Linked DNA regions of Homo sapiens: region 2 is linked to region 1. Evidence: fine-mapped expression QTL. A gene starts in region 1. The other region holds a variant in brackets. All regions are shown on one strand. Distances are from middle to middle.

The links.
Region 2: its variant is fine-mapped to the expression of ANKRD55 in whole blood (TOPMed, PIP above 0.99).

Annotation. Positions count from the first base shown.
Region 1 is chr5:56,224,393-56,240,748 of GRCh38, reverse strand. It overlaps ANKRD55 (ankyrin repeat domain 55), which reads left to right and starts at 7,419. Exons shown (of 12, transcript NM_024669.3): 1 at 7,419-7,508; 2 at 7,803-7,893. The coding sequence starts at 7,836. RefSeq lists an enhancer at 1-593.
Region 2 is chr5:56,151,517-56,167,872 of GRCh38, reverse strand. ANKRD55 (ankyrin repeat domain 55) reads left to right here. Exons shown (of 12, transcript NM_024669.3): 6 at 7,980-8,040. Among named protein-coding and RNA genes, the nearest start is that of ANKRD55, 74 kb to the left of the region's middle. RefSeq lists enhancers at 7,014-7,809, 10,200-10,995 and a silencer at 10,986-11,155. The variant G/A (reference allele first, on the strand shown) is at 8,100.

The sequences.
Region 1 (16,356 bases):
AACAAGAACAAATATTATATTTATGGGGAAGTTTGAGTGGAAGAATGGTGAAATCGTTGATCTTTTATGAAAAGTTTATGAGCTCAACGCTCCCAAAGAAATCAGTCGTTTATCAATGAATAACTCATTTTAAGAAAGGACGAGATCACTTTGGAAATGAAGCCTGAAACAGTAGATCATCCATTTCAATTTGCAAGGAAAAAATTCAACTTGTTTATACCTTAATTGAAGAGAAATGACGATTAACAGCAGAAACAATAACCAATAACATAGACATCTCAATTGGATCAGCTTACACAAATCTGACTGAAAAATTGAAATTAAGGAAACTTTCCACTTGATGGATGCATCAAATAGTAGTTCTGTTTTAATTTATTTGAGAAATCTCCAAACTACTTTCCACAGTGGCTGCATTAATTTACATTCCCACCAATAGTATATAAGTGTTCTCTTTTCTCCACAACCTCTCCAGCATCTGTTACTTTTTGACTTTTTAGTAATAGCCACTCTGACTGATGGGAGATGGGTCTAATTGTGGTTTTTGATTTGCATTTCTCTAACGATTAGTGATGTTGAGCATTTTTTCATATGCTTATTGGTTACGGGTATGTCTCTTTAAAAGTGTCTATTCATGTCCGAGCACAGTGTCTCACTCCTGTAATCCTAGCACTTTGGGAGGCTGAGGTGGGCAGATTGCTTGAGCTCAGAAGTTCAAGACCGGCCTGGCCAATATGGTGAAACCTCATCTCTACAAAACAGTACAAAAAAGTTAGCCAGACATGATGGCATGCACCCGGAGTCCCAGCTACTTTTGGGGCTGAGGCAGAAGGATTGCTTGAACCTGGGAGGTGGAGGCTATAGTAAGTTTAGATTGCACCATTGTGCTCTAGCCTGGGTGACAAAGTGAGACCTTGTCTTGGAAAAAAAAAAAATGTGTCTGTTCATGTCCTTTGCCCATTTTTTAATGGGATTTTTTCTTGTTTATAAATTTGTTTAAGTTGCTTTTAGATTCTGGATATTAGACCTTTGTCAGATGCATAATTTGCAAACATTTTCTCCCATTCTGTAGGTCGTCTGTTTACTCTGTTGATAGTTTCTTTTGCTATGCAGGAGCTCTTTCATTTAATTAGGTACCATTTGTCAATTGCTTTGGTGTCTTTGTCATGAAAGACAACATAGGCATAGGCATATTTGTCAGGGCCTATGTCCAGAATGTTATTTCCTAGGTTATCTTCCAGGATTTTTTATAGTTTTAAGTTTTACTTTTAAGTCTTTAATCCATCTTGAGTTGATTTTTGTACATGGTGTAAGGAAGGGGTCCAGTTCCAATCTTCTGCACATTGCTAGCCAGTTATCCCACCACCATTTATTGAACAGGGAGTCCTTTCTCCATTCCTTGTTTTTGTCAACTTTGTTGAAGATCAGATGGTTGTAGGTGTGCAGCATTATTTGTGGGCTCTCTATTCTGTTCCATTGGTCTATGTGTCTGTTTTGGTACCAGTACCATGCTGTTTTGGTTACTGTAACCTTGTAGTATAGTTTGAAGTTGGGTAATGTGACGCCTTCAGCTTTGTTGTTTTTGCTTAGGATTGCTTTGGCTATTCAGGCTCTTTTGGTTTCATATAAATTTTAGAATCGTTTTTTTCTAATTCTAAAAATTTTTCTAATTTTTCTCTAATTCTGTGAAAAATGTCATTGATAAGTTGATAGGCATACCATTCAATCTGTAAATTGGTTTGGGCAGTATGGCCATTTTAACAATATTGATTCCTTCTTATCCACAAGCATGGAATGTTTTTTCATTTGTTTGTATCATCTCTGATTTCTTTCAGAAAAGAATAATAAAAGAATCTGTTTGAAAGATAATTCTCATTATAGAGCTCTTTCACCTCCCTGGTTAGCTGTATTCCTAGGTATTGCGTATGTGTGTGTCTGTGTGTGTGTATATGTATGTGTGTGTGTATGTGTATGGCTGTTGTGAATGGGATTGCGTTCTTGTTTTGGCACTCAGCTTGGATGTTGTTGGTATATAGAAATGCTACTAATTTTTGTACATTGATCTTGTATCCTGAAACTTTGCTGAAGTTGTTTACCAGATGTAGGAGCTTTGGGGCAGAGAGAATATGAGGTTTTCTAGGTATAAAATCATATCATCTGCAAACATAGATAGTTTGACTTCCTCTTTTCCTGTTTGGATGCCTTTTATTTCTTTCTCTTGCCTGATTGCTCAGTCTAGGACTTCCAGTACTATGTTGAATAGGAGTGGTGAGAGTAGGAATCTTTGTCTTGTTCCAATTCTCAGAGGGAATGCTTCCAGAATTCAGTACAGTCCTGCCTATACTGGGTTGCCCATTCAGTATGTTTTTGGCTGTGAGTTTGTCATAGATGGCTCTTATTATTTTGAGATATATTCCTTCAATGCCTAGTTTGTTTAGGGTTTTAAACATGAAGGGATGTTGAATATTATTGAAATTCTTTTCTGATCTAGTAAGATGATCATGCGGCTTTTGTTTTTAGGTCTGTGTATGTGATGAATCATATTTATTGATTGGCATATGTTGAATCAACCTTGCATGCTAGGGATAAAACCCACTTGATTATGGTGGATTAACTTTTTAATGTGCTACTAGATTCAGTTTGCTAGTATTTTGTTGAGGATTTTTGGATTTATGTTCATCAAGAATGTTGTCTTGTCACCTGAAATAAACTGTTTCTGGTGGTCTTTACTAATAGGTATTGAGAGGAAAAAGCATTTGCCAGAGCAGTAACTGCATACTATGTACCAGAGAGTGTTTTAATTTGCTCAAGGAATAAAACCATATCTGAACAACAGCTGCAATTGGAGTTGCCACCTGGTTAAGCTTACTATAATCCACTGTTATTCTCGAAGATCCACCTGTCTTCTGCCAAATTGGAAAGCATATTGGAGAGTTGAATGGAGATGTGGTGGGAATCACCACCCCTGCATCCTTCAGGTCCTTTATGACCTCTACAGTTCCCCCAGAAATGTCGTATTGCTTTTGGTTTAGTATTTTCCTAGGTAGACACAGTTCTAGTGGCTTCCACTTGGCCTTTCCCACCATAATAGCCCTTACTCCACGATTCAGGGAACCAATGTAGAGATTCTGTGAGCTGCTAAGTATGTCTATTCTAATTGTGCATCCAGAACTGGGGAAATGACCACAGGATGGCATTGGGGCCCATTAGACCCACTGTGAGATGGATCTGAGCTGAAATCCCATTGACCGCATGACCTTCAAAAGTCCCTCCTCTGACTGGCAGGCCACAGTGATATTTTGAGTCTCCTGAAATTAGTGTCAGCTCAGAGCCAATGTCCAGTAAGCCCTGAGAGGTCTGATTATTTCTCTTTTCTCAATGCACAGTTACCCTAGTAAAAAGGCCATACATCTCTTTTGGGGAAAACTGAGAGAAAGATTAACAGTATAAACATTTAGTAGGGTACCAGGGCCTTTCCTCAAGGGCTCCAGCCTCCCCTTCATTTAAGGGGTTTTAGGTTTGTAAACAGGCTCAATTCTGGGAATTAATTGAGGGATCATGATTCTCTGTTTTTATGATTCGTGTTAGACTTTTGTCACTTAACCTAGAGCTTTTCTGCTTATGCAGATTAAGAATTTCATAGGCTTCCTATCTATTTTACTTTGAGAAACGCCATGATCAACTAGCCAATGCCATAGGTTTCTATGACTCAGACAACTCTGATTGCTGCTTGGACCTCTGCTGTCCATTACAGCATAAACCAAAGAGTGACTGAGGTAGATCTTAATTGACTGCAGGTTTATTTTGCCAAGGTTGAGGATGCAACCAGGAAAAAGAAACACAGGTCACAGTGGGATCTGTGACCTGGGCTTTTTCCAAAGAGAGTTTTAGGAACTTCAGTATTTAAAGAGGACAGAGCAAGCAGAAGAGGAGGGAAATAAAGGAGAGAGGATAGGCAATGAAACAAGTGGTCACCTTTTTGTGAGGCTCTGATTAGCACTCAGTGAGTCTACATATTACATGTGGAAAGAGGGAATAGAGTTGGCCGGGCGTGGTGGCTCATGCCTATAATCCCAGCACTTTGGGAGGCTGAGGTGGGCAGATCACCTGAGGTCAGGAGTTTGAGACCAGCCTGGCCAATACGGTGAAACCCTGTCTCTACTAAAAATACAAAAATTAGCCGGGTGTGGTGGTGGGGGCCTGTAATCCCAGTTACTCGGGAGGCTGAGGCAGGAGAATTGCTTGAACCTGGGAAGCAGAGATTGCAGTGAGCCGAGATCACACCACTGCACTCCAGCCTGGGCAACAGAGCAAGACTCCGTCTCAAAAAAAAAAAAAAAAAAAAAAAAAAAAGAGGGAATAGGGGAAAAAGCAATTACACATTTCTCTCATGCCCAGTAACTCTACATATGATAAAGTCAGCATGTGAAAATACAGCTATCTGTTTGGGAACGAAAGAAGACAGCTTTTTGCATGACTCAGTTCTCAAGCTTAAATTTCCCTGTGGCATAGTGAATTTGGGGTGCCATGATTCTATTTTTTTTCCACAACAGTAACTATGCCCACCTTGTCTTTGGCAGTTGAGTACCACCACTTAGCCCTACCATCCTAGGATCCAATTATTCCCACTGCATTTAGGTTTCCCAATTCAATGACTGCAGTTCTCACTGTCTGCAGAGAAGAGCAATCACAGAACTCTTCAAAGATGCTGGGGTTCCCCTCACAGATTTATTCCTATTCCTCACGGTACTGCTAAAAGTATGTCTTCTAGACCCTCCAGTGTGGGTGAGTAGTTCTTAAATGACAAATCCACTCTGACATTCCAATCTCCCTAAGCCTTTGAATCTCTTCCACATTAAACCAAGGCAAGTCCAGTATTTCCAATTTGCTCACCCTGGGCCACTTTTTGGTCCATGTTTCAACCCACTAACCTGACTGTTAGAACACTTTATAACTGCCTGAGCTGCAACAGTAAATGCAGAATTTCTGCTTAATTAGTTAATATCAATAAATTCAACCTGATCTAACTTTATGTTCCTTTCACCATTATTTCACTCCCTTAGTATCCATTCCCATGTTTCCTGGATTTTTAGGAAGTTCAAGTAATTATTTTGGAATATAATGTACTTCATGGGTCACACTTTGCACCTCACCTTTAGGGGCTGCTGGGACTTGAGTCTAGTTATAGGTCTAGAAGCAGAGGAACAATGGTGGTGGCTCCTGAAGAGAATCAGCATTGTTGTGCACGGCAGCTGCCTCAAGGAAGGCCAATACAGTTTCCTCAGGCAATTCAGAGTCAATCTTCTCAGACTGAGGTGAAAAGGCTGCTACCACTGGAGATGGGGAGGCTGCTTCTACTAGGGATTGGGAGTCCACTTCCACTGGCAAAGAAGACTCCTCAGAGTTTAGATGCTCAGTGTCCCCCAGCTTCATCAGGGTCTTCTCACATGTCTCTATCCAATTTACAGTATCCTCTACTTTCCCAATCAATGTCCTCACTTTAACAGCAGACATCCTGTGAAGCTGGGAGTTTGACTTGCGCTGTAATTCAGGAGTTCAATTTGCATTGTAATTCAGGCAGCTGCAGCATGAGAGCCTGCATTTGATTGCAGCATCCTCAGCCTCATGGCTACAGGAGGTAAGACTCTCCTTCAGGGTACACATACACACCTCCAGGTCATCTATATGGCACCTGAGCTGGGAATTAGAATCCGTGAGCTAATCCTTTTCTTTCATCACTTTGTCCAGTGACATTAGGAGCAACCAGCCATATTCATTAAGTTTCCAAAAATGTTTGAGGGTATCATCTACACAGTCACCCAACTCCTTGCCTGTTGTGTCCAGTGATTAATTAGGAATATTCAGTGCAGCTTTTTGCATATCTCTATTACCACTTCACACCATGGACTATCAATGCTCTCTTTACTCCTAGAAATAAAGCTATTAGAATCCTTAAATTTAATCAGATTTGAGAGCCAATTCCAGAAACCCTAGAACCAATCCTCAAGTACATGGTTTCTTGTTTAGACTAGAAAATTTCAAGGACTACAGAAGTTCTTGTCAGAAAGTTCTTACCCCATGAAGGATGGTTAATTGGGTTCCAATGTTACAATGTCAGTGAGCAGGTTGTCAGCTTGAGCAAGGAAAGTTCTTCAGTGAAGTTTCACTCATGCACTGAAATGTACTGAGCACCTCCTTTGTGCCCCTCTCTGTGCTAGGCTGTAAGGACATGGAGTGGACAAAGCAGACAAAGAAAGAGTAGACAAAGACCCTGCCCTTATGAAATGTACCCTCTTGTGGAGAAATATTTTAATTTGGGTTTCCGTAAAAGCAGACCCTGAGACAATGATTCCAATGCAAGTAACTTATTGAGAAGTGCAGGAAATATCAGTAGGAACGTGGGAAAGTAATACAGGGAGGGAACAGCAGCCCATAAAAAGAACGTTATTAGACCTATTCTCACAGGTGGCAGTGGAGTTTAACCCTGAAGGAGTTTAATCCTGAAAGGGAAATGGCAAACGGAGTAAAACACCATGCCTCAGAATCATCCTATCCAAGGGCAAAGGAAGCTGGTGTTTATTATTAGATTCAACAAGCATCTACTATATGGCTATTTGACTTATCCAAAAATCTGGTTGTGCCTAGAATATAGAACTTTGTTTGAATTTAGTATATCATATTTTTATTACAAATACAAGATAATAGATACTGGTTATTAACAAGCCAAAAATACAGAGATTGATACAGAACAAGTTAGAAATCTCCTACTCTAATCACAGTGGCCTGAGGGAACCAATATTAGCAGTTTAGTACGTATCTTTCTACATCTTTTTCAGTGTTCGTCTGAATATATAAAAATAATGTATACAGTGAGTGGTTTCCGGTTTTATTAAAACACGAACAAATGAAATATATAACTTGTTTATTTCATTTAACAATAGATTAGTGACATGTCACCAGATAAATACACAGATTTATTTATGTCAGATTTTTAAATCTAGAGTACGAATTTACTACCATTTACTTAGCTGCTCCCTGAATGAGGTACATTCGGGTGATTTTTCAGGTTTTACTACATGTAATGCTACAATAAACACCCTTGTGACAGCAGACTGTTTTAATTTTATCACCACAGACACTCGAGCCTTGAAATGTCACCTTTCAAATGACGCCTTTCCCCATCCTCCCTGTCAATTGGAGAACGGAGCTGAAAGGGGAGTGAAGAAGACTGCCAACATGGATAATTACTCCACACAGCACATGGCCAGCAGCCTCCTGCTACAATATTTACATCCTATTCCATTGAGATGGCACTCTCTGCTCACATGACCCAAATGCAGTTCTCACTCCGCCAAAAGCACAGCCGAATGCGAACTGCATTGGCAGCTTTGCACATGCTCTGTCTGGCCCTGTGAATCCTCACTCACCCATTCAGATTTCTGTTGGTGTAAAGCGACATTCCAGCTGCTGAAGCTCCGTGATCTGCTGTGTTTTTCCAGCCCAGATCCAAGGCAGGTGGCCCATACAATTTTACTATCTTTTTGGAGTTTGAGTAATTGTGTTTATTGATTTGGGGGTGGAGGGTGTATTATGCCCATGTACAGCTGATGAATGAGGCCATAGAGTAACTCTTTTCCTAGCAGGTATTTACAGGAATAGCATTTACCTATTTTCATCACCTTGCCTTGACAACAACCTGCAGCTCTGATGCACATTTAATCCTGAAACAGAGGTCTTGGCAAACGATGCTGCCTCTGACTGTCATGTTGACAGTAAGGTTTGAGATGGTGTTTTCTCCTCTCTAGAGACCTGGATGCTTTTTGCCATTCTGATGGTAAATGATGAGACAGGCTACCATGGATTTCAGCACCCCTTCTGTGTTTGATCAGCAAAGAGGTAAAATGCTGCTTTAACACATTCTTTGGTTGTTAGCATCCTTAGTCTCATGGTATGGATTTACAGTTGTAAGGAGAGAAAGAGAAGTGTGTGTGTGTGTGTGTGTGTGTTCATGTGCGTGGGTGTGCATGAGTATTTGCTATGTAGGATGTGGAAAGAGGATTTCACCTAGAAAACAAACCTGTTCAAAATGTTCACTTCTAGTTTGATAAGCATCTGAAACAGAAAAATAAGCTTATGATCTGTTGTATAAGCTTATGATCTTGTTGAAGTATTCCTACCTTCAAATTTTAAAAACTGGATTTCAAGCACACCAACTATTTCAGATAGTGTCATCTTTATTCTGTTTTTTCCAAATCTTTTTTAAAAATTAGGGTAAGCAATGTAAGAACACATCACATTTTTTTTGTCATTCGATTAGCCCAGTATCTCATTGCTGTATCTTCGTAAGCATTTTTTTATTCCTTTCAGGAATAGATGTTGCCTGTATTTATGTCGGGTTGATATGTTATCTCATCCAAGGTTGTGTAATGACATATCCCTATGCTATTATTTGCAATGCCAGGGTATATCTTCCTTACTTATAATTTCTGGAGTGGAGGTAATTTTCCACATCAAAATGTTGCTGTGAGATCAACTTATCCTTATAATATCACATATTTGGCCATGTGGTCTATGTGTATACATTTTGCATATGCAATGTGTTTATATACATCTTCGTGTAATACTTATGTGTAATAGTAAATCTTTTTTTAGTATAAACATGAAATTTCCATTTTATAAACATAATAAATATTTTTTAGAATCTTTTCTTAAATATCTATTATTTAAACCACTTTCTACAGTCTCTGAATATTCTTCAAGATCCTAAGTTCCTTTGGTGATTTTATCTGTTTTGGCTACAACATGAAATGGTGGTTTGAAAAAGCCTCATTAAGAAAATGTACTGCTTCATTCTTTTTTCCCTTTTCCTGCTCTAGGCCATAGCATGTTTATTACCCCTCAAGCTACATCTGGCTTTGTGGGTGAATTATTTTAGCCCAGGGGGTTTCTCCAAAAATAAATTTATATTTAGATTCCTGAGTTAGCTAATGTATATATGTGTATAGTGTGTTCTCCAGGTCTTAGCTCATTTGGAATAGTGTTTGTGTATGTGTATGTGTGTGTGTGTGTGTGTGTGTGTGTGTGTGTGTGTGTGTGTGCGCGCCTTCAGAACGTGCCGGCTCATACCGTGTTTGGATCTGAACAGCATAGAGAAAGGCGTTGTCACAGCTGTGCCCACCACCATCCTCTCCTCCTGGTACATTTTATATCACTGATGGCAGTCAGTAAAAGTGAAAATCTGCTAAGAACCAAAGAGCTCACACTGGCTGAAAAATGATGTTGCTAAGCCACGAAACATACAATGGGTTTATTTTTGAAGACTAATTGGAGGGAGCTGGGACTGACTGAAGAAGAACTAGCTCTTCATAATGAATTTACATGTTCCAGTGCTGTACCTTCTAACAGGATTGAGCCCCAAACATAGTTAAGATACAGAATTACAAGACTGATTTTCTTTTAACACCTTTCATGTGAGCAATTCACAGCAATTCCTCCACCTGGGCCGGATTCTCTCCCATGGAAGTTAACCCTCTCCCTGCCATCTTTATCTCTATTTCTCAATCCTTTCTCTCTTTCTAGAGGTTTTATCATATGATGGAAAGAGCATGGGATTTTAAATCTTATAGACGTAGATCAGAATGGCAGATCATCTACTTCTTAGCTGTGTGACCTTGGCAAGTTACCTAACCTCTCTGGGCCTTAGTTTCCCCAGGAATACAATGAAGGAAATGATGCTTACCTAGCAGGGTTGTTGTGAGGATCTAAAATAATAACATATAAAAAGCACCTGTTAGCAATGCCTGATATTCAATAAGTATTTTCCCATTTTGGCTGCAGCTGTTATTATTATTGCTGTTGTTATTATCACCTTGGACTGGGAGTTTCTGAAGTGCAAAAGACTACTCATCTCTCTACCTTCAGCCTGAATGTAGCAGTCCTCAGATCAAATGAGGGCTTAGTGCTGGATGACTAAATTACATTAATTATTTTTTTCAGAACCCTAGGATACCATTTATAGCAAGACCTAGAATAATAATTAACTAAGCCATTCCTGAATAGTTTTATTACCCATTAATCCTTCCTCTTTCTTAAAAGCATGAAAGACCATGAGGGTTGAGACCATTATACAGATTTTAAATACTATATTGTTGGACAAACCAAAGGGAGGTGACTTTCTCGGGAAAAGTTGAACATGGGGCTTTAGTTGAGGGTTTTTCATGAATCGTTACTGTCTGGATAAGTGAACCCTAGCAGTACTGTCTTTACATGCAGATGGGGACAGAAGACATTGCAGCTGGAAGAATCTTAGCAATCAAGTAACCTGTTGGTTCTCACATTGGCTGTACTTAAGAATCATCTGGGCCGGGCGCAAGGCTCACGCCTGTAATCCCAGTGCTTTGGGAGGCCGAGGTGGGCAGATCCCAAGGTCAAGAGATCGAGACCATCCTGGCCAACAGGGTGAAAGCCTGTCTCTACTGAAAATACAAAAATTAGCTGGGCATGGTGACACACGCCTGTAGTCCCAGCTACTCGGGAGGCTGAGGCAGGAAATCGCTTGAACCTGGGAGGTGGAGGTTGCGGTGAGCTGAGATCAGGCCACTGCACTCCAACCTGGCGACAGAGCAAGACTCTGTCTCAAAAAAAAGAAAAAAGAATCATCTGAAGAAATTCTGAAAATGCTGATGCTTGCATCCCACCCAGGGAGATTCCAGTTTAACTGCAGTGGTTGGCCCAACCAACACTCCTTGGGAAGTTCTCATGGACAGCAAAGATGCAGAACCAGTCATCCAACCTACCCCTCTTCCACATTTCAGATGAGGGAACTAAAGCACAGAGAGGTTCAAAGTTGGGTCCTTCCTAATAATAATAACAACACCCCACTAAATAGCAACAGAGGGGACTGAGGCCCAGGTGTTCTCCATCCATACAACAGGGCAATAGGAAGCTTCCTGCACATGGCCAATCCCTGGCCTAGCACTGACTCTGGCTCATGGCTGCCCAGAGAATGGTGGAAGAATATGATGCAGAAGGACCTTCAGGGCTCCAACGAGGTGGGTTTGGTAAGACTGAACCCCTCCACATGCATTTTCCTATATTTCTCTTTAGCTAGAGGCAACGAGGCATGCCAGGGTCTTGGTGACAGATGGTCATTTGCTCAAGTCCTGTCTCTGCCCTCTTCCTAGTTACATGAACTTGCACAAACTAGTTGATCTCCACTGGCTTCTGTCTCCTTGACTGTAAATGTGGATAATACTATATTACATATTCACAGAGCTGCTGGAAGGCCCAACGATCAGATCATTTGACTGGCCAGGGGCATGGTCTCTGGCTGGCTTTGCAAAACTGTGAGGGAGGAAGCCTGGGTCTTCAGAACTCTCGACTCTCTTTTGTGCCTTCAGCTTTCACCATAGCAACATCTCTTCTGGTCCCACGTGTTCTTTCCAGCTGTGTTCCCTCTCAAAGCCCACACACGCAGGAAGCGACCTGTAGTAAAGCCATTTACTACAGAACACAGAGGTTCCTGCTAAAGTCTACATATTATGTAACTGAAGATACTTGCATTGTAAGCTTTGTCACGACTTGTGGAAAGAAAAGTTTTGCTGCGCCTGAAAGAATCCCAAACCTGAGAGAGAAAACAGGGAAAAAAAAAAAAAAAAACAGGCGAGGGGTCGGCGGGAGGTGGGGGGATGGGTAGCCTCAGGGCCTCACCCACTCTTCTGTATTGTTGGGGGTGAGGAGGGCCTGGCCGTGCCAGGGTCTCTGAGGAAATATGCCTGACGAGGCTGAGCGGTGTGTTTGCACACACCTGTGTGGGCTGTGGTCCACCCTCTTGCACAGGTCGTTTCTCTTGTCGAGTTGCTGGAAAAAGAGAGGAAGGGCTTTGTCTTCTAGCCCAGATTAATAGAGTGTGTGATTGTCTCTGTGCTGCTGTAACCAATTATCACAAGCTGGGTAGCTTAAAACAACAGAAATTTATCCTCTCACAGTTCTGGTGCCCAAAAGTCTGAAATCAAGATGTCAGCAGCAGGCCGGGTGCAGTGGCTCATGCCTGTAATCCCAGCAGCTTGGGAAGCCAAGGTGGGCAGATCACCTAGGATCAACAGTTTGAGACCAGCCTGGCCAACATGGTGAAACCCTGTCTCTAGTAAAAATAAAAAATTAGCTGGATGTGGTGTCATGCGCCTGTAGTCCCAGCTACTTGGGAGGCTGAGGCACAAGAATTGCTTGAACTCAGGAGGCGGAGGTTGCAGTGAGCCAAGATCGCGCCACTGCACTCCAGCCTGGGTGACAGAGTAAGACTCCACCTCAAAAAAAAAAAAAAAAGTCAGCTGGGGGCCTTCTCCTAGAACCTTTAGGAAAGAATCTTCCCTGGTCCTTCCAGCCTTGGCTGCTGTGGCCTCATCACTCTGGTCTCTGCCACCATCTTCACTTGGCCTCGTCTGTGTGCATCGCTCCTCTGTGTACCTGTTTCAAAGTTCCTCTGCCTCTCCTTTAAGGATGCATGTGATTGCATTTAGGGACCACCCAGATAATCCAGGATAAACTCCTCCTCTCAAAGTCCTTGGCTTAGTCACATCCTTTCAGATATAAGGTCATAGTCACTCTCTTGCCATGTAAGGGAATAGCCACAGGTTCCAGGATTAGAGGTTAGAACATGTCTTTAGGGCCACCATTCAACCCATTGCAGGGAGTGAGAAGAGGTCAGATCCCAGAAAGCACGCAACACTGTGACTCGGTTTTTGGTAAAATCCATTCTCATTTAAGCTAGGAGAAAAATTGGCAAGTAAGAGGTGGGGGAAGCGGGGAGCATCTGTTTGGTGCAGACTCTGTGCAGGGCTTTACATGGATACATATTGACAAGAGCGAATGTTTATGGAGCATTTAGCAGATCCAGGCTCTGTCCTAAGGACTGCACACAGACTAGCTCATATAATCCTCATATCAGCTTCACATATGACCCCCTTTTATCGATGAGGAAATTCAAAAAGGTTATGACCTACCCAATGTTGTCACAAAGTAAAACAGCAAAGCTAGGATTCCAAGCTAAATCTGTTTCACTTCAAAACCGGTGTTCTTTCTACTGCAGAATGTCTTTTCCTTGGCCAGCAATAAGGTTTAATAAAAAAAAAAAAAGACATCAATGGAAAATCAAATTAATGAAACATTTATTTTCACAATCAAGCTCTTATTCCATTGTGTTGTGGATTTTTAAAGTTCCCACGCACAGATGTGCAGGGGTTTTTTTGTTTGTTTTTTGTTTTCTTTTATACTTTAAGTTCTAGGGTACATATGCACAGTGTGTAGGTTTGTTACATATGTATACATGTGCCATATTGGTATGCTGCACCCATTAACTCGTCATTTACATTAGGTATATCTCCTAATGCTATCCCTCCCCCCTCCCCCTACCCCACAACAGGCCCGGGTGTGTGGTGTTCCCCACCCTGTGTCCAAGTGTTCTCAATGTTCAGTTCTCACCTATGAGTGAGAACATGTGGTGTTTGGTTTTCTGTCCTTGCGATAGTTTGCTCAGAATGATGGCTTCCAGCTTCATCCATGTCCTTACAAAGGACATGAACTCATCCTTTTTTATGGCTGCATAGTATTCCATGGTGTATACATGCCACATTTTCTTAATCCAGTCTATCATCGATGGACATTTGGGTTGGTTCCAAGTCTTTGCTATTGTGAATAGTGCTGCAATAAACATACATGTGCATGTGTCTTTATATCAGCATGATTTATAATCCTTTGGGTATATACCCAGTAATGGGATGGCTGGGTCAAATGGTATTTCTAGTTCTAGATCCTTGACAAATCACCACACTGTCTTCCACAATGGTTGAACTAGTTTACAGTCCCACCAACAGTGTAAAAGTGTTCCTGTTTCTCCACATCCTCTCCAGCACCTGTTGTTTCCTGACTTGTTAATGATTGCCATTCTAACTGGTGTGAGATGGTATCTCATTGTGGTTTTGATTTGCATTTCTTTGATGGCCAGTGATGATGAGCATTTTTTCATGTGTCTGTTGGCTGCATAAATGTCTTCTTTTGAGAAGTGTCTGTTCACACCCTTCACCCACTTTTTGATGGGGTTGTTTGATTTTTTCTTGTAAATTTGTTTAAGTTCTTTGTAGATTATGGATATTAGCCCTTCGTCAGATGAGTAGATTGCAAAAATTTTCTCCCATTCTGCAGGTTGCCTGTTCACTCTGATGGTAGTTTTTTTTTTGCTGTGCAGAAGAAGCTCTCTAGTTTAATTAGATCCCATTTGTCAATTTTGGCTTTTGTTGCCATTGCTTTTGGTGTTTTAGACGTGAAGTCCTTGCCCATGCCTATGTCCTGAATGGTATTGCCTAGGTTTTCTTCTAGGGTTTTTATGGTTTTAGGTCTGACATTTAAGTATTTAATCCATCTTGAATTAATTTTTGTATAAGGTGTAAGGAAGGGATCCAGTGTCAGCTTTCTACATATGGCTAGCCAGTTTTCCCAGCACCATTTAATAAAGAGGGAATCCTTTCCTCATTTCTTGTTTTTGTCAGATTTCTCAAAGATCAGATGGTTTTAGATGTGTGGTATTATTTCTGAGGGCTCTGTTCTGTTCTATTGGTCTATATCTCTGTTTTGGTACCAGTACCATGCTGTTTTGGTTACCGTAGCCTTGTAGTATAGATTGAAGTCAGGTAGCGTGATGCCTCTAGCTTTGTTCTTTTTGCTTAGGATTGTCTTGGCAATGTGGGCTCTTTTTTGGTTTCATATGAACTTTAAAGTAGTTTTTTCCAATTCTGTGAAGAAAGTCATTGGTAGCTTGACGGGGATGGCATTGAATCTATAAATTACCTTGGGCAGTATGGCCATTTTCATATTTATTCTTCCTATCCATGAGCATGGAATGTTCTTCCATTTGTTTGTGTCCTCTTTTATTTTGTTGAGCAGTGGTTTGTAATTCTCCTTGAAGAGGTCCTTCACATCCCTTGTAAGTTGGTTTCCTATGTATTTTATTCTCTTTGAAGCAATTGTGAATGGGAGTTCACTCATGATTTGGCTCTCTGTTTGTCTGTTGTTGGTGTATAAGAATGCTTGTGATTTTTGCACATTGATTTTGTATCCTGAGACTTTGCTGAAGTTGCTTATCAGCTTAAGGAGATTTGGGGCTGAGACGATGGGGTTTTCTAAATATACAATCATGTCATCTGCAAACAGAGACAATTTGACTTCCTGTTTTCCTAATTGAATACTCTTTATTTATTTCTCCTGCCTGATTGCCTTGGCCGGAACTTCCAACACTATGTTGAATAGGAGTGGTGAGAGAGGGCATCCCTGTCTTGTAACAGTTTTCAAAGGGAATGCTTCCAGTTTTTGTCCATTCAGTATGATATTGGCTGTGGGTTTATCATAAATAGCTCTTATTTTTTTGAGATACGTCCCATCAATACCTAATTTATCGAGAGTTTTTAACATGAAGGGCTGTTGAATTTTGTCGAAAGCCTTTTCTGCATCTATTGAGATAATCACGTGGTTTTTGTCTTTGGTTCTGTTTATATGATGGATTACGTTTATTGATTTGTGTATGTTGAAGCAGCCTTGCATCCCAGGGATGAAGCCAACTTGATCATGGTGGATAAGCTTTTTGATGTGCTGCTGGGTTCGGTTTGCCAGTATTTTATTGAGGATTTTTGCATCAATATTCATCAAGGATATTGGTCTAAAATTCTCTTTTTTTGTTGTGTCTCTGCCAGGCTTTGGTATCAGGTTGATGCTGGCCTCATAAAATGAGTTAGGGAGGATTTCCTCTTTTTCTGTTGATTGAAATGGTTTCAGAAGGAATGGTACCAGCTCCTTTTTGTAGCTCTGGTAGAATTCGGCTGTGAATCTGTCTGGTCCTGGACTTTTTTTGGTTGGTAGGCTGTTAATTATTGCCTCAATTTCAGAGCCTATTATTGTCCTATTCAAGGATTCAACTTCTTCCTGGTTTAGTCTTGGGAGGGTGTATGTGTCCAGGAATTTATCCATTTCTTCTAGATTGTCTAGTTTATTTGCGTAGAGGTGTTTATTGTATTCTCTGATGGTAGTTTGTATCTCTGTGGGATCAGTGGTGATATCCCCTTTATCATTTTTTATTGCATCTGTTTGATTCTTCTCTCTTCTTTATTAGTCTTACTAGTGGTCTATCAATTTTGTTGATCTTTTCAAAAAAGCGGCTCCTGGATTCACTGATTTTTTGAAGGGTTTTTTGTGTCTCTATCTCCTTCAGTTCTGCTCTAATCTTAGGTATTTCTTGCCTTCTGCTAGCTTTTGAATGTGTTTGCTCTTGCTTCTCTAGTTCTTTTAGTTGTGATGTTAGGGTGTCAATTTTAG
Region 2 (16,356 bases), 73 kb after region 1:
TGTACTTCCTCTTTGTGGACTTGTGTTTCTATTTCTTATTATGCTTATCAGTACTCCTCGACTCTTGAGGATCTACATTAAGTTGCTATAACTAGGAGAGCAGAGAGTTGTGGCTTCCCCTCTCTTGAAACTGTACCTAACAGCCCAGCCACCACCCTTGGATGAGTTGAAATAAGAAAAATAAACATCCTTCTGTGTGCAGATGACGTAGTTAGTTATATTGTCCAAAAAGCCCTTAACTGATTCTGAAAGATAAAATTCTGCTTTAGTTATGGCAATGCTAGCTGCTTTAACTAATAATCCCAAAAAGTTAAGATTGACTATTCCAAAACCAAAATTGTTATTTCTGGTAAATGCTCTCCAAAGATTAATTGGGTTAAGTCCTAACAACCATACAGCAAATCAAATAGAGTCACACGCTGCATAATGACATTTCAGTTAATGGCAGACTGCATGTGTAATGATGGTCCCATAAGATGATTATATCATATTTTTACTGTACCTTTTCTATGTTTAGATACATAAATACTTACCACTGTGTTACAATTGCCTACAGTGTCTAGTACAGTCACATGCTGTGCATATTTGTAGCCTAGAAGCAATAGGCTCTACCATATAGCATAGGTGTGTAGTACGCTCTACCATCTAGGTTTGTGTAATACACTCTATGATGTCCACACAATGATGAAATCGCCAAACGACACATTTCTCAGAAAGTATTCCCATCATTAAATGATGCATGACTGTAGTTTGGTTACCTACAGAATATTGGAAACTAGTCCACCCTAAAGGATTCCCTATGGAATTACATTGTTAAAATTACATATTTTATAGTTGTTTGAGAAATTTTAGGTCCATGGCAGAGTTTGATACATCTGCATTAAATGTTTAAAGTAGAAACCGAATTTATTTTAATGGCCATATTTTGACATTAAGCCCTTGGTCTCCGTTGAGAAGCCTTATAAGAAACAGTCTTACAAAACTTCCTGGCTCATGATTCATTAGCACCTCCGAAAAATTCTATATGAGAAACCACAAGAAATATTTCTACTGAAGAAGGAATTGCTATGCTGCTCCTGATAAATCATTTTTTTTAATTTTACTATACAGACACTGTGACTTCAGAGCATGTTTCTTTCTTTATATATTTAGAAAATTCAAAACTCAATTTGTGTCCCACCTCTGGCATACATGTAGGACTATAGATCATGTCTTTTTTTTTCCTGCCCGTGTTTTCTCTTTGTCTTGTTTCTTCACTCGTTATCTTATTTCACCATATTTGTCTGAAAACAATCTAAAATCCCTGAAGGGGCCAGGCATTGTGGCTCACACCTGTAATCCTAGTGCTTTGGGAGACAGAGGCAGGAGGATAACTTGAGGCCAGGAGTTCAAGACCAGCTTAGGCAACATAATGAGGCCTCATTTCTAAAAATGATTTTTTTAAAAAAGTAGCCAGGCATAGTGGTGTGCTCCTGTAGTCCTACCTATTCAGGAGGCTGAGACTGGAAGATTGCTTGAGCCCAGGAGTTCGAGGCTGCGGTGAGCTATGATCGTGCCACTGTAATCCAACCTGGGCGACAGCACAAGACCCGAAGGAAGGAAGGAAGGAAGGAAGGAAAGAAAGAGAGAAAGATAGAGAGAAAGAAAGAAAGAAAGAGAGAGAGAGAGAGAGAAGGAAGGAAGGAAGGAAGGAAGGAAGGAAGGAAGGAAGGAAAGAAGAAAGAAAGAAAGAAAGAAAGAAAGAAAGAAAGAAAGAAAGAAAGAAAGAAAGAAAGAAAGAAAGAAAAAGAAAAGAAAGATCCCTGAAGGGTGGCCAGGAGTGCCAGCTCATGAGTATGAGTCAGACTGACTGAGTTTAAATCTGGCTCCAGCTCTTATTCTCTTGGGCAAGTTAACATGTCAAGGCTCAGCTTCCCCTTGAAATAAGTACTATTTTTTTTTTTGAGACAGAGTTTCACTCTTGTTGCCCAGGCTGGAGCGTAAAGGCGTAATCTTGGCTTACCACAAACTGCGCCTCCTGGGTTCAAGCAATTCTCCTGCCTCAGCCTCCCGAGTAGCTGGGATTACAGACACGCACCACCATGCCCGGAAAATTTTGTATTTTTAGTAGAGATGGGGTTTCTCCATGTTGGTCAGGCTGGTCTCGAACTCCCAACCTCAGGTGATCCGCCCACCTCAGCCTCCCAAAGTGCTGGGATTACAAGAGTGAGCCACCACACCTGGCGAAGTAAGTACTATTAAATATATTATTCCTGCTTACTTCACAGGGAAGTAGGCAGAAGTAAAGGAGAAAATGTGTGGAAACGCTGAACTCAGCACCTAGTACATTGTCCGTGTTCAGAAAGTGAACATGGTGATGATGATGGCGTGATGATATGATAATGTTGATGGTCATCAATGATGATGATGATGGAAGATAGAAAGAAACACCATAAACATTATAAGAAGCTAAGGAATGAAACACTACTACTGCCACCCCACTGGTGCTCATCCTGGCCTTCTTCACCTCAGCACACTCAGGTCCACAAAAATGTGTGCACAGACACAGGCCCATGTAAATGCAGTCCTACATCCTACTGCCGGGCACACAGGTTTACTGCAATGGTTGTTGGGGTGTGTTGTTTGTGTGGATCTATGCACACCTTTGTAAACTGGCATATGTCTGCATTTTCCCCTAATCATAAACAGTATGTACAGGCCACATAGTGCCCTTGTGCTCAGGTTTTTATACTGATTTAAAATCTGCTAACACTTAGATTTCCAAACAGCAAGCTCCTTCTATTTGGTGCTCACTGGAGGTTATTCAGAGAGAAGCCTCAAACCGAAGCTGCTTATAAACAAGCTAAGGGACGCTTCAATTAGTCCTTTGCCTCCAGAGGGATTTTAGTGCTCAGATGGAAACAACTCCTGAACAAACCAAACAGTATGAATCTGCATCCTTAACTAAACACCCGCTCAATGGGGATGGAGGCTGATGCAGGGATAAGTGATTTATAATCATGAACGTGAAGGCACACTGGGTTTACAAAAGCAAAGATGCACAGGTTTCCTCTCATGATTCCCCTTCCTACTTTGAACCCTCTGCTTCTCAGCAGGTCCAAGTTTTCCCCCTTTCAGCTCCCCAAGGCTTTTCTTGCTTCCTTGGCTGGGACATTCAGAGGGCGCTGGTGTGAAAGAGGGGGCATGATCATTAAAACAAAGCTCCAAAGAGAACAGAGTTGTGTTTGTACAACGCTGCACATGCTAGTGTTGGAAGGCAAGCAGCAATTTTCTCTGAAAGCAGCCACGGGGCTCTCTGAAGGTCTTTTTCATGGTCTCCATGGCTACTGGCAGACTTTTTTTCCTCCCTGTCAGAGTGCCAGCCACTCTGCCTCTTTTCATCACTCTTGACTGCAGCCCAAGGGAGGAAGAAAATCATTTCCTTGGGGTCCTGTTCTCTAGTTACCAGGTGGTGTGTTCTGACCTGCAGTGTTTGTCTCACTGCAGCACACTCTAATACAGGCAGCTCCAGGGACAGGAAGGGGAGACGGCTGGTTGTGGGACCATTTTTTCCCACCTGTCACTGCGCTGGCCAGCTCCAGGGCTGGGAACATTCAGAGGGGCCAGCGAAACAGGAAAGCTCATAGGGATGAGTTGTCCCCAGGATGCTTCTAGCTGATCCTTCTCTGAGACCCACCATTCACCTAATGATAATCAGTGGAGACCCAGAAAATAGAAGGTAGGAGCTATTAAAAAATTAATCATTTTATAGAATTTTTTGTTTGTTTTTTGTTTGTTTTGAGACAGAGTCTCAAGCTCTGTTGCCCAGGCTAGAGTGCAGTGGCATAATCTCGGCTCACTGCAACCTCCACCTCCCAGATTGAAGCAATTCTCCGACCTCAGCCTCCCTAGTAGCTGGAATTACAGGTGCCCACCATCATGCCTGGCTAATTTTTCTATTTCTATTACAGACGGGGTTTCACCATGTTAGCCAGGCTGGTCTCAAACTCTTGACTTCAGGTGATCTGCCCACCTTGGTCTCCCAAAGTGCTGGGATTACAGGCAGGCGTGAGCCAGCGCACCTGGCCATATAAAACTTTATTATGGCATGTAAGGGCTATTCCAAGTGCTTTGTGTGCATGGAGTCAAAGTCATGACAGATCCTGAGGAAGTAGGTATTATTCTCTGCATTTTATGGATAAGAAAATGTAGGCACTGGGAGCTCGCCCAAGGTCACTGGCTGGTTGGTATGGAGCAGGGATTCTAACAGTGGCAGTCTGGCCCCAGCATCAGTGCTCTTATGACTCAACACACCACCTGTCTGGGACTGCTCTTGCTGGGGTCCAAGCCTGCTGTACTGGCACCTGAGATGAGATGGGTCTTACATCACTTACTCAGAGATCCGAGGACAGGAGGGAGTCTGAACTTGGCTGATGGGGGTGTAGAATGACTCCTGGGCCATGGTAACACAAAATGAGAGCTCGGGGGAAGCACAACAGAGGGCTGCAAATCATCTAGGAATTGACATAGATGCTGGACAAGTATCTCGCAGGTCACCTCCATACCACAGAACAGCAAGGAAGTCCCAGGCTGGCAATGAGACACCTGGTTTCTGGTTCAGGCTGTATCACTGAGCCACTGTATGGTGGTCTTGGCAAGCCAGGAAGGGCCTCAGGTTCTTTGTTCTCACAACATATGAGAGACAGCCAGAGCCAGAGTGAGGGCAAGAATGCAGGAGAGGGCCTTGATCTGTCTATTTGTGTCCAGCTTTGACGATCAATGGATCTCAGAGACTTCACAGTCAAGTGGAGTTGGGCCACATAGATCATCACATATCAGTCACAGCCATGACAGAGAAGACATGGGAATTAAAGGGTGGCAACTGGAGAAAGTCTAGGGAAAGACTATTTAAACTTGACCAACAAGGCTGGATAGGGTGATTCACGCCTGTAATCCCAGCACTTCGGGCGGCTGAGGATCGTTTGAGTTCAGGAGTTCAAGACCAGCCTGGGCAATATAGTGAAACCCCATCTCTACTAAAAACACTAAAAAATTAGTTGGGCGTGATGGTGCACACCTGTAGTGCAAACTACTCTGAAGACTGAGGCAGGAGGATGAATCGCTTCAGCCCAGGAAGTCCAGGTTGCAGTGAACTGTGATTGTGCCACTGCACTCCAGCCTGGGTGACAGAGTGAGAGCTTGTCTCAAAAAAAAAAAAAATTGACCAAAAATTGACCAACAAGAGATGATGGTTGATGTTCTAACCCCCTACCCCACCCCCACTTTCCCCAAAAGAGCAGGAAAATGTTATCACTTTCTAGACCTAAAGGGGCAAGGAAGGGGCTGTTACTGGAAACTTCTGAGAGCTGCAGTGGTAGCTTAGCTGTAGGAGAGGGGCCACCTGGCAAGAACTGAGGCCTTTGGTAGAGAAATACAATTATTGCCAGAAAGGGAGCTGGCTTCTCTCCCTCCTCCTGCCAGTTCCCCCATCGGCAAAACCCGATAGGAAGCCAAGGGCAAGGGAGCCTGGTTGATGCGGTCCCTAGAAGTCAGCCTCAGAGCAGGGCAGTATAAAGAAGAGAATGGCTTTGAAAGCCAAATAGAGAACTATCTAGGCACACGGTTCATCCCACAACCTTGGGAGGCCACCCAGGATATGACAAGAGGTCCTGCTCTCCCTACCCCCATTCTAATCTGGTTAGAGCCCCAGAAGATCCTGTCTGGCTACAGATAATCTCTGTCTGCTCAGGAGTAACCAAGGATAACCACACTGGACCACAGCTGACCTCCTGCCTTGCCCTTCCCTCCTCCCCCAGTCCCTCAGACCAAATGGGCCCTAGAGAGTAAACAATGGCCAATAATGAGCCAGAGAAGACAGAAAGGAAAGAAAGAAAGGAGAAGCACAGTCACAAGGTAAGCCCTGCCCCCACTCACAAAGCAGCCACAGGGAAATATATCCAGTGGTGAAATAATTGCAAAGATAAAAATTGTGTGACCCAAAATGCAATTATTTTTATATGTCTTCCTACCAAAGGCTACATCTAGAATTCAGAGAGCATAAAAGAGATGTACTGTATGCAGTCATAGCCATTGTCCCTTTAGTGTATGTGACCCAGGGTCTTTCTGCCTGTTGGATCACTCAATCCTTTACACCACTGCGTTACTACCCCTCTGATATACATGAAGATACAGAAACTCAGATCGTGCAGTAGTGAGGTCAGAATTAAACCTCAGCATTATCCTGGCTCCCCAAAAGACTATGATACAACAAGATTGAAACCACAGGCTTCCTGGTTATTTCACCTCCACCGCAAATAACCAGAAGTCCATCTCTATTTAAGCTCTCTGTGTATTACATTTACTGCTAAGGCAATATGATTAGTGGATCTTTCTTTTCTTCTATTGCAAGTAACAATTTAATACTTAGGGCTTTAGATGTCTTCCAATCTGAGAGACGATAAAGATTTGATTGGAGAAGAGACTAAACAATTTCATTTTACAAATAATTCTTCCAAAAGCAATTTCTGAATTTCCTCCATTGACTGCCCATACACTATTCTTTATCATCTTGATGAGTATCCATTGATTAATTCTTTCAGCACCTTTCTCAATTGTTTCCAAGCCTGGCTGTTTACCATAATTTCCTGAATAGCTTTTTTTAAACAGTAGAAGCTGGGCTTCTCCAGACCTACTGAGTTAGAAACCCTGAGTACAGAGTCCAGGTATTTGTGGTTTAAAAAAAAAAAAAATCTCTCCAGGCAATTCTGAGATGGAGCCAGGGTCCAAACTTCTGGGGTTAAGCACTCTAGAAATAACAGCATGTTCCAGGCATGCTCTATATGTTGTATGCATATTAACTCATTTAATCCTCACACTGAGCTGTGTGATAGGTAGTTTTTATCACTCCTATCTCACAGATGAGGAAGTTTAGGCAGGAAGAAGGTAAGTAACTTGCCTGAGGTCACAGAGCTCATCAGTGGCAGGGCTGGGATGTAAACCCAAGCCATCTGGCTGCAGAGCCCGGGCCCCTCTCCACTATGCTCGGCTGCCCCCCTCTCCCAGATGGAGCGTTGACTTCAGTCAACTGAGCAGGAGATCCAAGTCAGGTAAGAGCCTGAATCTGAGAATCATTGATAGCTGTTTTACACTGATTACTGTCATCTTGTGCTTAGGCATGTGTGTATTTTACAAAGAATGAGCAAACTTGCAAATACTGACAACCTCCTGGTATAATCTATGCATTAAAAAGGCATGACATATGCAGCTAGGAGTGAAGCAGGTCGAAAGCACTCTGTAAGTTTCTATAAAGTGAATCTTGTGCTTAGGCATGTGTGTATAAAGAATAAAGAATAAGTGGCCGGGCACGGTGGCTCACACTTGTAATCCCAGCACTTTGGGAGGCTTAGGCGGGCGGACCACGAGGTCAGGAGATCCAGACCATCCTGGCTAACACGGTGAAACCCCGTCTCTACTAAAAAATAGAAAAAATTAGCAGGGCGTGGTGCGGGGCGCCTGTAGTCCCAGCTACTCGGGAGGCTGAGGCAGGAGGATGGTGCTAATCCGGGAGGCGGAGCTTGCAGTGAGCCAAGTTCGTGCCACTGCACTCGAGCCTGGGCAACAGAGCGAGACTCCATCTCAAAGAAAAAAATCATAATAATAATTGCTACATGATTTTGGATCTTAAAGGGCATGGCTAGGAGACAGAGGCCTGGTGAACACAATGAGCCTAAAGTTTCTCCATCCCCTTGTGCCCCTCGGGAGTGCTGAGATGAAGAGAGGGTGGGAGAGGCAGACAGTAGCCCTCCACACAGGTGTCTTCTAACCTATCACACTCTTGCTTCTTTTCTGTGGATCTTTTTCCCAGAGAAACGGAAAGGGCCCTCATCTTCATTTGGAGTCTTTCAACTGACGGTTTTTCTAAGGTCATGTTTTTATACCGATTCCAAGAGCACCGTGACTGCCTGTTATTTTGAGCCATTTCTCCTATTTTTTCCTTACAGGCTCCTCACGGTCCTGTTGCAACAGTCGAACATCAGCGAGATTAATCACCAGGACAATGAGGTGAGCCACACTCTCAAGCAACAAGTGGTCATTTTGCATGTGAGGGTGAAAGGAAGGGC[G/A]TTTCTGAACCATTGTGCTTCCTCTTAAAAGCTACGGGGAGACATGAGGCATGGTTCTGTGTTCCTACCCTGAAAGGGAGACCTGTTTTCACTATTAATCCTCAGCAGAAACTTATCCCCACCATGGGTGTGTGTAGCTTCTGATAGGGAAGGACTTTATTGCATTAAGTACTTCAGCATTTATCATACGACTGAAATTTTGTAACTTCCCTCTGGACATTGAGAAATAAATATTGCTCTCTCCTGTCTTCTCAAGTCCCAGAAACTTAGTAGCAAGCGGTGGCTCAAGACGTGCTCTCTTTTTTTTTTTTTAAGATGGAGTTTCGCTCTTGTTGCCCAGGCTGGAGTGCAGTGGCACCGTCTTGGCTCACCGCAACCCCCGCCTCCCAGATTCAAGTGATTCTCCTGCCTCAACCTCCCCAGTAGCTGGGATTACAAGCAGGCGCCACCACACCCGGCTAATTTTGTACTTTTAGTAGAGATGGGGTTTCTCCGTGTTGGTCAAGCTGGTCTCAAACTCGCGACCTCAGGTGATCTGCCTGCCTCGGCCTCCCAAAGTGCTGGGATTACAGGCATGAGCCACTGCACTCAGCCTAAGACATGCTCTCTCGTGTAAGATGGCAGAGAGGTGGGTGTAGTGGCGCGTGCCAGTGGTCACAGCTACTCAGGAGGCTGAGGTGGGAGGATCACTTGAGCCCAGAAGTTTGAGAGTCCAGCCTGGCAACAAAGTGAGACCCCCCTCTCTGAAGAAAAAAAAGAAAGAAAAAGGAAAACAATGACAAGACTGGACACTGGCTCATGCCTGTAATCCCAGTGCTCTGGGAGGCCAAGGTGGGAGGCTCACTTGAACCCAGGAGTTTGAGACCAGCCTGGGCAGCAGAGCGAGACTCCATTTCTACAAAAAGTTTAAAAAGTAGCTGGGTGTGGTGGCACATGCCTATAGTCCCAGCTACTCTGGAGGCTGAGGCAGAAGGATCACTTGAGCCCAGAAGTTCAAGGTTACAGTGAGATATGATCACATCACTGCACCCTAGCCTGGGTGACAGAGTGACATCCTGTCCCCCTCCCCTCCAAAAAGAAAAGAAAAAGATGACAGAGAGATAATATTAATAATTCCGGGTTACCTGCTCCAGACATCACATTATTAATCCCAGTGATCGTAACTGCTGTTTAATTCATGTTGCAAGTAGAAGGCTTCCAAAAAGGTCGTTCAACACTCTTCAACAAAGTTCTTGAGGGAAGGTGGCTCAGACACTAAGCAGAGCTGTCCAAGAGTAGCTTAGAGTCTTGTTAGATCTGCTTAACTCTTTTAAAATGCAGTACTAATTTTCCTTAGCCAGGCTGATTTCCTTAACAAGGTTCTTAAAATCAATTTAAATACCTGGTTTTCAATGGAATTTTAAAGTAAATATGTGCTTGGTTTGGTTGCATTTCACTAAGAAAGTCTGATAACATTAAAAATGTACATACACAAAGATGCCGATTACATTATTTTCAAGGAAGCTAGGTGACCATAGGCAAGGGGGCGGGGGTAAGCCTCCTAATCACTTTCTTCTGGGGCAGATGCCCCCGCATCTGCCTTTTTTTTTTAAATAGACAGATTCTTACTCTGTCGCCCAGGCTGGAGTACAGTGGTGCAATCTCAGCTCACTACAGCCTCCGCCTCCCAGATTCAAGAAATTCTCCTACCTCAGCCTCCCAAGTAGCTGGGACTACAGGTGTGCACCACTATGCTCGGCTAATTTTTGTATTTTTAGTAGAGACGGGGTTTCACCATGTTGAGCAGGCTGGTCTCAAACTTGTGAGTGAAGGGGTGGCCTGCCCCTCCATACCTGTGAACGTTTCTCGTCAGGTGGAACGAGAGACTTGAGAAAAGAAAGAGACACAGAGACAAAGTATAGAAGAAGAAAAGTGGGCCCACGGGACTGGCGCTCAGCATAAGGAGGACGCGCGCCGGCTCCGGTCTCTGAGTTCCCTCAGTATTTATTGATCATTATCTCTACCATCTCAGAGAGGGGGATGTGGCAGGACAATAGGGTAATAGTGGGGAGAGGGTCAGCAGGAAAACATGTGAACAAATGTCTCTGTATCATAAACAAGGTTAAGAAAAAAGTGCTGTGCTTTTGATGTGCACATACATAAACATCTCAATGCCTTAAAGAGCAGTATTGCCGCCAGCGTGTCTCATCTCCAGCCCTAAGGCGGTTTTCTCCTATCTCAGTAGATGGAATATACAACTGGGTTTTACACCAAGACATTCCATTGCCCAGGGAGGAGCAGGAGACAGATGCCTTCCTCTTATCTCAACTGCAAAGAGGCCTTCCTGTTTTACTAATCCTCCTCAGCACAGACCCTTTACATGTGTCGGGCTGGTGGACGGTCAGGTCTTTCTCTTGCCATGAGGCCATATTTCAGACTATCACATGGGGAGAAACCTTGGACAATTCCTGGCTTTCCTAGGCAGAGGTCCCTGTGGCCTTCCACAGTGTTTTGTGTCCCTGGGTACTTGAGATTAGGGAGTGGTGATGACTTTTAACAAGCATGCTGCCTTCAAGCATTTGTTTAACAAAGCACATCCTGCATAGCCCTAAATCCATTAAACCTTGAGTCGACACAGCACATGTTTCTGCGAGCACAGGGATGGGGGTAGGGTTACAGATTAACAGCATCTCAAGGCAGAAGAATTTTTCTTAGTACAGAACAAAATGGAGTCTCTTATGTTTACTTCTTTCTACATAGACACAGTAACAGTCTGATTTCTCTTTCTTTTCCCCACAGTGAGTTCAGGTGATCTGCCACCCTGGCCTCCCAAAGTGCTGAGATTACAGGTGTGAACCACTGCGCCCGGTCCACCCATCTGTCTTGAGCCTTCTGATTAAAGGCCTCCCTCTGACTAGCATTAATGACCACATCAGAAAGCCCCTGCTGCTTTCACTCCCCATATCTTCAGTGGTTTAAAGCAAAACCTCAGAGGAAAGAGGGTTGCACTGTTAGAAACTTCTGCTTTAAAGATGAGAACCAGAGATGAGGTAGCACACTCTGGTCACTCTGCCCATGGTGTCGAAGCAGGGAGCTGGAGTGGCGGAGTCCATGTCAGCAGATTGTGAACCTCTAGATTTCAGGGCAAGTTGCCAACTACTTCCTCCACCTCCAACCTCTGGGGTAATCCCTAAACTAGGTCTTATTTAGAAAGATGACAAATTTGCTCATTTATACCCTAAAGCTAAATTCCACTTATAGACCTACAACTCCAGCACCCCTCAGTAGAACTAGCAACCCCCCAGCAAAGACATAGTTCCCTATTTTTCTCCACCCCAGGAGGCACCTGGCGGTGCAGACAATGAAAGCAGACATGGATCTTTCTAAGAGTGGTAATTGTAACACCTTACATAGAATATGTGGTAAATATTGGAAAAGTCCCTGGTTCCTCCTCATGCAAAGGGACTTCTGCAAAAAGATTCCTCCTGCTATTACACCAGCATATGGACCCGTTGGGTTTTAAGCCCAGAAAGCAGACCCAGCAGAGCAAGGGCCTCAACAAGGCACTTCCTACCCATGGTCACAGCTTCCTCTTTGGTCCATTCACAGCCTGCTGTCTGGAATCCATCTGAAACCAACTGCTAATGCTTGCCTGTGTTTTTCATACACATGGACTCCGCCACTCCGGCTGCCTGCTTCCACACCATGGGCAGAGTGACCAGAGTGTGCTACCTCATCTCTGGTTCTCATTTTTAAAGCAGAAGTTTCTAACAGTGCAACCCTCTTTTCCCCTGAGGTTTTGCTTTAAATCACTGAAGATTTAAAACAAAACATAGGGATATATATGTGTATGTATATATTATGTATCCATATATGTATGTGTATGTGTATATATATGTATCTGTATATAGATATATACATGGTTTTGGTTTTTTTTTTTTTTTTGAGGCAGGGTCTCATTCTGTGGCCCAGGCTACAGTGCAGTGGTATGGTGCGATGTCAGTGCACTGTAACCTCCGCATCCTGGGCTCAGGTGATCCTCTCACCTAGCCTCCTGAGTAGCTAGGACTACAGGCAGACACCACCATGCCAGGCTAATTTTTCCATTTTTAGTAGAGATGGCACTCATATAACTCTGAGGCACTCATAATTTTGTTTTTGACTGAGCTCCTGTACTAGGTCAACAGACCAGGCCAAATATCAAAATGGAGTCCCTCATACTTAAATTCCAAGTTACCAAACTGAGACCGAGTTGTTATCTGACCTTCTGAGAAATCAGGAGAGAGATAACACCCAAATTTCCCAAACAGGCTAGTTTTACTTAGCATAATAATGAAATTTCCTCTGCTTTTAATCCTGACAACAAAAAGTAACCTAAAGTAACCTGATGTTAAGCAATCAGTTTTTTCTCTGTTGTTCTGTTTCCCTGTTCTCATCTTTCATCTTTCAAGGAAAGTAACTTTGAAATAACCAATCTGCTTTTTGTTCTTTGCTTCTGCTTTTTTCAGTCCTTCTCTGTCTACAAAACCAACCTCCTCTGCTGGGCTCGTTGGAAAACTTTTTTTTTTTTTTTTAAGACAGTCTCACTCTGTCACTCAGACTGGAGTGCAGTGACACGATCACAGCCCACTGCAGCCTACTGCCTCAGCCTCCAGAGTAGATGGGACCACAGAAACCCTGCACCACAGGCATGCACAACCATACCCAGCTCATTTTTTGTTTTTGGTAGAGACAGGGGTCTTCCTATGTTGCCCAGACTGGTCTAGAACTCCTGGATTCAAGTGATCCTCCCGCCTCAGCCTCCCAAAGTGCTGGGATTATAGGCGTGCACCACCATGCCTGGCCAGAACATTTTGGAATGAAGCCCAGTTCTAGAATTGCAAATGAAGCCAGTTAAGATCTTTGAGGCCCGGCTCCACGGCTCACGCCTGTAATCCCAGCACTTTGGGAGACTGAGGTGGGTGAATCACTTGAGGCCAGGAGTTCAAGACCAGCCTGGCCAACATGGCCAAACCCCGTCTCTACTAAAAATATGAAAATTAGCCGGCTGTAGTGGCTCATGCCTGTAGCCCCAGCTACTCCAGAGGCTGAGGCAGGCGGTGGAATTGCTTGAACTTGGGAGATGGAGGTTGCAGTGATCTGAGATGGCGTGACTGCACTCCAGCCTAGGCAACAGAGCAAGACTCTGTCTCAAAAAAAAAAAAAAAAAACTTTAAAACTAAATCTTCTGCTGTAATTCCGTTTTTGCCAATTATTTATTTTATTTAGTTATTGGTCATTGCTAGTGAGAGCCAATCACGATAAATTTATAACAGCAAAAGCTCTTGCCATTGAGAAATAAATACAATTCTGAAATGGAAAGAACACAGCCCAGGCTTTCTTTTTCATTCATTACTTTGGTGGAGTTCCTGTATTTGGCTGCTCAATGTTTTGAACAAGTAATCTTCTCTCGTCTGTCTTTTTTCAACAAGCTCCAAGCATGATGTAGCCTCCATTGTATGAGGGGTAGCGGGGAGTAACAGTTAAATTCATTGTTTAAAAAAAGGTACCACTCTATGTGTTCTGCAACTTTTTTTTTTTTTTTTTTTTTTTTTGAGACAGAGTCTTACTCTGTTGCCCAGGCTGGAGTGCAGTGGTGCGATCTTGGCTCACTGCAAGCTCCACCTCCTGGGTTCTGCCTCAGCCTCCGAAGTAGCTGGGACTACAGGCACCCGTCACCACGCCCAGCTAATTTTTTTTGTATTTTTAGTAGAGACGGGGTTTCACTGTGTTAGCCAGGGTGGTCTCAATCTCCTGACCTCGTGACCCACCCGCCTCAGCCTCCCAAAGTGCTGGGATTACAGGTGTGAGCCACCACACCCGGCCTAACTTAGTTTTTTCAACTCAAGCATTTGTCTTAGAATTTTTGATACATATAGATCTGGCTCATTCCTTTTTTGTTGTTGTTGTTTTGTTTTTTTCGAGATGGAGTCTTGCCCTGTCCAGGCCGGAGTACAATGGTGCGATCTCGGCTCACTGCAACCTCCACCTCCCGGGTTCACACCATTCTCCTGCCTCAGCCTCCCGAGTAGCTGGGATTACAGGCACCCACCACCACGCCCAGCTAATTTTTGTATATTAGTAGAGACAGGGTTTCACCATGTTGGCCAGGCTGGTCTCGAACTCCTGACCTCGTGATCCACCTGCCTCGGCCTCCCAAAGTGCTGGGATTACAGGCGTGAGCCACGGCACCCAGCCTGTGGCTCATTCCTTTTAATGGCTTCATCATGTTACATAATATCAAAATACCCCCATTTATTTTGCCATTCCCCTATGAATGGATATTTAGGTTGTCTCAATTTTTCACCATCATAAACACCAGTCTAAAGAGTGTTTCTTGTACAAGCCTCTTTGCATACTCTGTGCAAGCATTTCTCTTAAAAGAATAATTGCTGGGTAGTAGAGAGTGTATGTTTTTATTTTTAATACACACTGCCTAATTATTCCCCCAAAATAGCTGCGTGTCGTTGTTGTTGTTGTTGTTGTTGTTGTTTTTAGTGGAAGTACTGGTTTTTTCCCAGTTGTTGCTGGATTTTCTTGTTATTTGCATTTTCCCTGATTAATGAGATGAACATCATTTCATAGACATAATGGTCTTTATTATATCTTCTTTTGTGACTTGCCTGTTTACATTCTTTGTCGATTGATCCATTGGGTTGTCATTTTCTTATTGATCTATAGGAGTTTAGTTTATATGCTGAATATTAATGCTTTGCTGTTGGGTTGTAAATACTTTTTCGTAGGCTGTTGGCTATTTTGAAATAGTTCATAGTACCTTTTCTTATTCAGAAATGTAAAAATCTGATATAATTAAAATGATCATTCTTGTCTGTTTCTGCTTTTTCTTTTGATGTCTTTTTAAAGAAGGCCTTCTCTACCCCAAGAACTGGATTATGTTATGTTAAATTATGTTTTTGTTTGTTACCAGATTTTTTTTAATATATGGTTTCATTTTTGAACTCTTTGTTCTGTTCCAATGATCTGTTTGTTTTTCCTGTTTCATTAACCACACTGCTTAATTATAAACTGACTTATTTAGAAGTTATCCACACTGCGGTTAACACTGAAAAAAGCAAGATAGGTCAGATTGTCCTTTGTGCTTTTGTTCTTCAAAACAGGACCTCAGAAGAATCATTGACATAGAGTGAGGCTTGTCTGTTGCAGCTACCGGGAGTTAAATGGAAACTAACCTCTCCTGCTCTCATTTTAGCCTTGACAGGAAGAGTGTTCTATCAAGAGAGGCTCTGAGCTGTTGGCATCTGGGTTAGAACTTTGAATGCATTTAACCAGAGAAGCACTGTTATGCACAGCATTTAGGATATATATATTGTTTAGGATATATTAAATGCACATTCTTATGTAAGCAGATTTTTGTGAGCAGTCTGACAAACAAAACTTCAATTGTAGAACCACTCTGAGAAAATAAATTTAAGTTGCAAAAACAGATGTGACCTTTTGGACATAATTCTTAGCATCACTTCTACTTACCACATTCCTGAGATAGAACCAAAAGCAGAAGAAACAGTCCCTGACTTGAAATTTTTAACTTTACAGTTAGCAAAAGGTAACATAACAAACAAAAGTTTTTAATGAATCAGAAGTTTTAGCCTAAGACCGAACATCTAAAAAAAAAAAAATGGAGTAGGGTCACCACTACTTAGGAGCCCCCACCTCCCTCTCCCACTCTCCTCCAACCCTATAAACTTCTAGAGGCAGACCATGCCTTTTTTTATCTTTGTATCCCCAGTTTCTAGTTCAGTAGCTTGCACAAAAGCTTTAGTGAGGCACAAAAATTTTTTATATATATATACACACACATATATACATATATACATATATGTGTATATACACACATATACGTGTGTATGTATATGTATATATACACACGTATATATACATATATATACACACACACATATATATATATAGATTTTTTTTTTTCCGAGATGTGGTCTCACTGTGTCACCCAGGCTAGAATGCAGTGGCACTATTTTGGCTCACTGCAACCTCCGCCTCTTGGGTTCAAGTGATTCTCCTGCCTCAGCCTCTTAAGTAGCTGGGATTACAGGTGCCTGCCACCATGCCCGGTTAATTTTTGTATTTTTTGTGGAGATGGGGTTTCACCAGGTTAGCCAGGCTGGTCTCGAACTCCTGTCCTCAAGTGATCCACCTGCCTCGGCCTCCCAAAGTGCTGGGATTATAGGCGTGAGCCACCACGCCCAGCCTAGATATATATTAT